Homo sapiens: one gene and its partner. The protein of the gene in region 2 interacts with the protein of the main gene of each other region in a pairwise test. Each region holds a gene or a part of one and is shown on either strand. Other genes may lie near its edges.

Region 1 (3,754 bases), on a different chromosome or scaffold from region 2:
AACTAAGTTCCTTGAAGGTAAGGACTGAGTGCTACTTTTTAAAAAATCTCCTGCGGTACCCAACACTGCTATACATGAAGAATATTTTCCGGCCGGGCACGGTGGCTCACGCCTGCAATCCCAGCACTTTGGGAGGCCGAGGTGGGCAGATCACAAGATCTGGAGTTGGAGACCATCCTGGCCAACCTGGTGAAACCCCATCTCTACTAAAAATACAAAAAATGAGCTGGACGTTGTGGCACATGCCTGTAGTCCCAGCTACTTGGGAGGCTGAGGCAGGAGAATCTCTTGAATCTGGGAGGCAGAGCTTGCAGTGAGCCGAGATCACACCACTGCACTCCAGCCTGGCCATAGAGCAAGACTCCACCTCAAAAAAAAAAAAAAAAAAAAAAAAAAAGAGTATTTTCCAAATGACTGAACAGATGAATCATTGACTTGAAACAATTCCACTGGCAGGGAACTGGCAGGCCCTCATAAAATAGTAAATATTCACTATTTAGCAACTTTTCAAAAGATTTTTTGGGACACACAAGTTAATGATGAACAGGATATAGGCAGTTGGGATCATCTTTCCAGGATGACCACCAGTAGTATTTTATAAATGATAATGTAAGTACAGCAAATAGCACCTATTCACTCAGTCTGGACACATTTCTCCAGGCTCCAGAAAAATGTAAATGGGAGTTTTGCTATAAGAAGGGCCTCAAAAATCTCTGTACGATTTTTGAATACATAAGGACCTCATTTTAATCCTAGCAACACTTTAATGTGTTAATTTATTTCATACTTCAAGTAATGAAATTGAGGCTCAGGGCCAGGCATGGCAACTCACACCTGTAACCCCAGCACTTTGGGAGGCCAGGAGTTCAAGACCAGCCTGGGCATTGCTACAAAAAAAAAAGTTAGCTGGGCATGGTGGGATGGGCCTATAGTCCTACCTACTGAGCTAGGACTCTTTTTTTTTTTTTTTTTGAGACAGAGTCTCACTCTGTCGCCCAGGCTGGAGTACAGTGGCGCGATCTCGGCTCACTGCAAGCTCCACCTCCCGGGTTCATGCCATTCTCCTGCCTCAGCCTCCCAAGTAGCCAGGAACACAGGCACCCACCACCATGCCTGGCTAATTTTTTTTTTATTTTTTCAGTAGAGATGGGGTTTCACCGGTTAGCCAGGATGGTCTCGGCCTCCCAAAGTGCTGGGATTACAGGTGTGAGCCACCGCGCCCAGCCTGGGCTAGGACTCTTAAAAAAAAAAAAAAAAGAACTAAAGAAAGAAAAACGACGTTAGAAAAGTGAAATATTGTGGCTGGGCGCAGTGGCTCATGCCTGTAATCCCAGTACTTTGGGAGGCCGAGGTGGGCGGATCAGGAGGTCAGGAGATCGAGACCATCCTGGCCTACACGGTGAAACCCCATCTCTACTAAAAATACAAAAATTAGCCGGGCGTAGTGGCTCACGCCTGTAATCCCAGCTACTCGGGAGGCTGAGGCAGGAGAATCACTTGAACCTGGGAGTCAGAGGTTGCAGTGAGCCAAGATCACCACTGCACTCCAGGCTGGCAACAGAGCGAGACTCTGTCTCAAAGAAAAGTAAAATATCTTAGCCCAGGGCTGCACAGAAAGTTAGCCACAGAGGCAGGACTCGAAACCCCAAAGCACATGCTCTAAGTAATCCACAGAGTTCCTGTGAAGCTGTTAGTTAAAATATGTACTTGGGCTGGGTGTGGTGGTTCATGCCTGTAATTCCAGCACTTTGGGAGGCTGAGGCAGGAGGATCACTTGAGCCCAGGAGTTCAAGACTGGCCTGGGCAACATGGCAAAGCCCCATTTCTACAAAAAATACAAATTATTAGCTGGTCGTGGTGGCATGCATCTGTAGTCCCAGCTATTCAGGAGGCTGAGGTGGGAGGATCACCTGAGCCTGGAAGCTAGAGGTTGCAATGAGCCGTGATTGTGGCAGTGCATTCCAGCCTGGGTGACAGAGTAAGACCCTGTGTGTGTGTGTTTTTTTCTTTTAAATAAAAAAAGGACTTGTTTGAATATAAATCTTCCTAAAGAATTACAGGTTGGGCTGGGCCCAGTGGCTCATGCCTGTAATCCCAGCACTTTGGGAGGCCAAGGCGTGCGGATCATGAGGTCATAAGTTCGAGACCAGCCTGGCCAACATGACTAAAAATACAAAAATTACCCAGGTGTGGTGGCAGGCACCTGTAACCCCAGCTACTTGGGAGGCTGAGGCAGGAGAATCGCTTGAACCCGGGAGGCGGAAGTTGTAGTGAGCCGAGATCACACCACTGCACTCTAGCCTGGGTGACAAAGCAAGACTCTGTCTCCAGGGGAAAAAAAAAAAAGGGCCTGGTATGGTGGCTTATGCCTGTAATCCCAGCACTTAGGGGAGTCAAGGCAGGAGGATCCTTTGAGCCTAGGAGTTCAACCACAGCCTAGGCAACACAGTGAAACCACGTCTCTACAAAAATTTAGAAATTAGGCTGGGCAAGGTGGCTCACATCTGTAATCCCAGCACTTTGGAAGGCTGAGGTGGGCAGATCAACTTGAGGCCAGGAGTTTGAGACCAGCCTGGCTAACATGGTGAAACCCTGTCTATAGCAAAAATATAAAAAATTAATTGGGTGTGGTGGCACACACCTGAGGCATGAGACTTACTTGAGCCTCAGAGGTGGAGGCTGCAGTGAGCCGAGATTGTGCCACTGCACTCCAGTCTGGGTGACAGAGTGAGACTGTGTCTCAATAAAAAAAAAAAGGCCAGGTGCAGTGGTTCACGCCTGTAATCCCAGCACTTTGGGAGGCCAAGGCGGGCAGACCACAAGGTCAGGAAATCAAGACTGTCCTGGCCAACATGGTGAAACCCCATCTCCACTAAAAATACTAAAATTAGCTGGGTGTGGTGGCGCCCGCCTGTAATTCCAGCTACTCAGGAGGCTGAGGCAGAAGAATGGCTTGAACCCAGGAGGCGGAGACTGTAGTGAGCAGAGATCACACCACTGCACCGCAGCCTGGCAACAAAGCAAGACTCTATCTTAAAAAAAAAAAAAAATTATTTGGCCAGGCACAGTGGCTCACACCTGTAACCCCAGCACTTTGGGAGGCCAAGGCGGGCGGATCACCTGAGGTCAGGAGTTCGAGACCAGCCTGGCCAACACAGCGAAACCCCGTCTCTACTAAAAAATACAAAAATTAGATGGGCATAGTGGTGGGCCCCTGTAATACCAGCTATGCGGGAGGCTGAGGTAGGAAAATCGCTTGAACCCAGGAGGTGGAGGTTGCAGTGAGCCGAGATCATACCATTGCACTCCAGCCTGGGTGACAGAGCAAGACTCCATCACAAAAAAAACCAAAAAGAAATACACAAGGCCAGGCATGGTTGCTTACACTTGTAATCCCAGAACTCTGAGAGGCTGAGACGAGAAGATCACTTGAGCCCAGGCGTTCAAGACCAGCCTAGGCAACATGGCAAAACCCTGTCTCTAAAAAAAAATACAAAAAATTACCCGAGCCTGGTGGCGCACGCCTGTATTCTCAGCTACTCTGGGTGGCTGAGGCAGGATGATCACTTGAGTCCCGGAGGTTGAGGCTGCAGTGAGCCCAGATTTTCCCACAGCACTCCAGCCTGGCCAAGAGAACAAGACCCTGTCTCAAAAAAAAAAAAAAGAAAAGAAAAGAAAGAAAGATGCAATAAATGGGTGCAAGGCTACTTTAGACTGGGTCAGGGAACGTCCCGGAGCTGAAATCTGAGCTGTG
Region 2 (2,708 bases):
GGGTGAAGGCCGTGGATGGGGATGAGCAGTGGATCCTGGCCGAGGTGGTCAGTTACAGCCATGCCACCAACAAGTGAGTGACACCAGCCCCGGGGCTGCTCTCTGCCCTTCCTGTCCACCTGCCCCACAGCCCCAGGAGGACTATTCTATCCTGTTTGAAGACACCTCCTATGCAGACGGCTACTCCCCTCATCTCAGTGTGGCCCAGAGGTACCTGGTAGCTTCTAAGGAGCCCAAGAAAAAGTGACGCTGCCCGGCGGACTCGACGTCCTCCACCATCTTGGGGCAGGACAGCAGAGGATGTGCTGGGATTAAACAGACATCCCCCCTCCACACATCTCCTGGGTTTTACTTCTCCAAACCCTTCTCCCCTCCCCAGATATGGTGACCTGGGGAGCTGAAGGCTGGGGGAGAGGTGACCATATGTGGCCCCACCGGGCATTCACTCTTTCAGCTCAGAGTTTCTCTTCCTTTCCAATACAGGCTCTACATGAACACAAATCATATTTTATTTTGAGCTTTATTTTCTTTGGAGGGAGGGTCTTGCTTGTCATCCAGGCTGTAGTGAATGGGCATGTCATAACTCACTGTATCCACAACCTCCTGGGCTGAAATGATCCTCCAGCCTCTGCTTCCCAAGTAGCTGGGACTACAGGTAAGTGCCAGCACATGTGGCTAATTTTTTTACATCTTTGTAGAGATGAGGTCTCACTATTTTACCAGGCTGGTCTCAAATTCGTGGCCTATTGTGATCCTACCAGCTCAACCTCCCAAATCGCTGGGATTGCAGACATGAGCCACTGTGCCTGACTCAAAAATCATACTTTATTCTTGAGCCCATTGGTCAGGGTAGATTCGCACACTCCCTCTGCAGTGACTCCAGGAGCCCCTCTCACAGCTCAGAGCGGAAGCTGAGGCTGCAGCCTGCCATCTTCTCCGCATAGTCCGCATCGAAGCGCTCATTCTGCGCCACGGTGAAGGTGGTCTTCCAGTCCCCAGCCATGCCTGGGGGAGGAAGGCAGGGAGCAAAGCTGGAGTCTCATCCCAGGGGAGGCCCCAAGTGCCTATGGGGAGGCTGCAGCTGCTGCTCCCACCCGCCCCAAACCCCCGTGCTGGCCAGCACCCACCTTTCCTCATGAAGGGGGAGATGCTGTGGTCCATGAGCTCCTGGGGGACGGTGGTGTAGTTGGTCATAGGGTTCTTCTTCATCTCCTTGAACGACGTGTGCTGAACCATGAAGTCCATGGTCTCCTCTGGCAGGGAGCGCCCCACAAACTCCAGGATCTTTTGAATCTCCCTTTTGGGGTTCTGAGCAGCAGAGGGCTCCTCAGTGGAGCAAAACAAAACGGGTCCCCCTCTCTAACCTCAGAGGGGATCTGGCCACTTCCCCTAGAAACCCCAAAGAGCCTCAACCCCTGGGGCCCTAGTCTCTGGAGTAAAATGAATTGATCTCTGCCCTGTGATCCCATCATGAACAGGGCTTGGCGCCTATGGGTGAGGACCGGGATGGTCTTCTTCCATGACTGTGGCCCTGGGTGGCACACCCTTTGGTGAGGATAAGCAATAGGACTAAGTATCTGATCCGTGGCCACCCATGCAGCTGACTCAGGTGCAGAAGATGAAAGCTGTGCCGAGCCTGCTGCCAGGTGGGGCTGCAGTGGGGGGGCCTGGGCCAGGGAGGTAGGATGGGGAATCCGGGCTTGCTGTGGGAGCCGCCCAGGGACGGGGCTGGGTGGCCTTGGTGGGTCCCTGTGAGGTGCCTGCCCCCAGGTGTCACATGGGGGGAAGCATCACAGTCGGTCTCACCTCCTTCATGTCTTCATAGAAGAGGTAGAGAACAGGGTGGGTGCGGCTCAGCTCCCACCACTCCTGCACGTGCTGGTACCAGGACCCGTAGGACACTAGAGAAGCGGGCAGGGGGCACCGACACAGGGTTGCTGTACGTTATAGCCACCACCCCTCGGCTTCACACCCTCCTTCCTCCAGTCAAGCCCACCTTCTCCAGCCATGAACTTTTCCAGGAAGCTGTCCCAGGTCCCAGGCTCAGGGTGCGCCTTTTCCATACGGTGGAAATGGTAGTAGGAGACCGCCACGTCCTTTGGGTTTCGGGCAACATAGACCACCTGCAGGGGCAGAGGACCCAGCCCCAGCACCATCACCACACAGCCCACCCCAGGCCAGCTCATCTGTTGAACTGGCAAAGGAGGAACCTGAGGCTTAGAGGCTGACTTGCTTGAGATCTCACTGCACAGGTAGGGCCAAGCTGGGATCTGAACCCTGCTCGGAAGCCAAAGTCCTGCCTGGTTCCTGAGACCATATTCTATACTAATATAATCTGCACCAATGCCATCATATCCTGATCTGGAGCAAGGCATGCCTGGTCCCCACCAGCTCCCCCTCCTCCGCTGACCTGTGAGCACCCACATGCTGCCTTTCTTAAGTGTGCACTGTAGAGACTCACTATCCTTGCATCAGACCCTCATCAGAGCAAGAGGCAGACAGTGTCCTCTCTCAAGATGTGATGAAGGCTGGGCGTGGTGGCTCATGCCTCTAATCCCGGCACTTTGGGAGGCCAAGGTGGCCAGATCACCTGAGGTCAGGAGTTCAAGACCAGCCTGACCAACATGGTGAAACCCCATCTCTACTAAAAATACAAAATTAGCCGGGCGTGGTGGCAGGTACCTGTAATCCCAGCTCCTTGGGAGGCT

What was found.
Region 1: the proteins of SULT1A4 (region 2) and SHMT1 interact in binary tests that used the Homo sapiens proteins (3 or more experiments, as listed by UniProt).

The regions. Positions count from the first base shown.
Region 1 is NC_000017.11:18,356,910-18,360,663, forward strand, and holds part of SHMT1 (serine hydroxymethyltransferase, cytosolic), read right to left. Parts: intron 3,644-3,754; exon of another isoform or gene 3,505-3,643; intron 1-3,504. UniProt on the Homo sapiens protein: Interconversion of serine and glycine.
Region 2 is NC_000016.10:29,462,760-29,465,467, reverse strand, and holds the end of SULT1A4 (sulfotransferase 1A4), read right to left. Parts: intron 2,124-2,708; coding exon 1,997-2,123; intron 1,902-1,996; coding exon 1,807-1,901; intron 1,309-1,806; coding exon 1,128-1,308; intron 1,006-1,127; coding exon 893-1,005; 3' UTR 502-892; downstream 1-501. UniProt on the Homo sapiens protein: Sulfotransferase that utilizes 3'-phospho-5'-adenylyl sulfate (PAPS) as sulfonate donor to catalyze the sulfate conjugation of phenolic monoamines (neurotransmitters such as dopamine, (R)-adrenaline/epinephrine, (R)-noradrenaline/norepinephrine and serotonin) and phenolic and catechol drugs.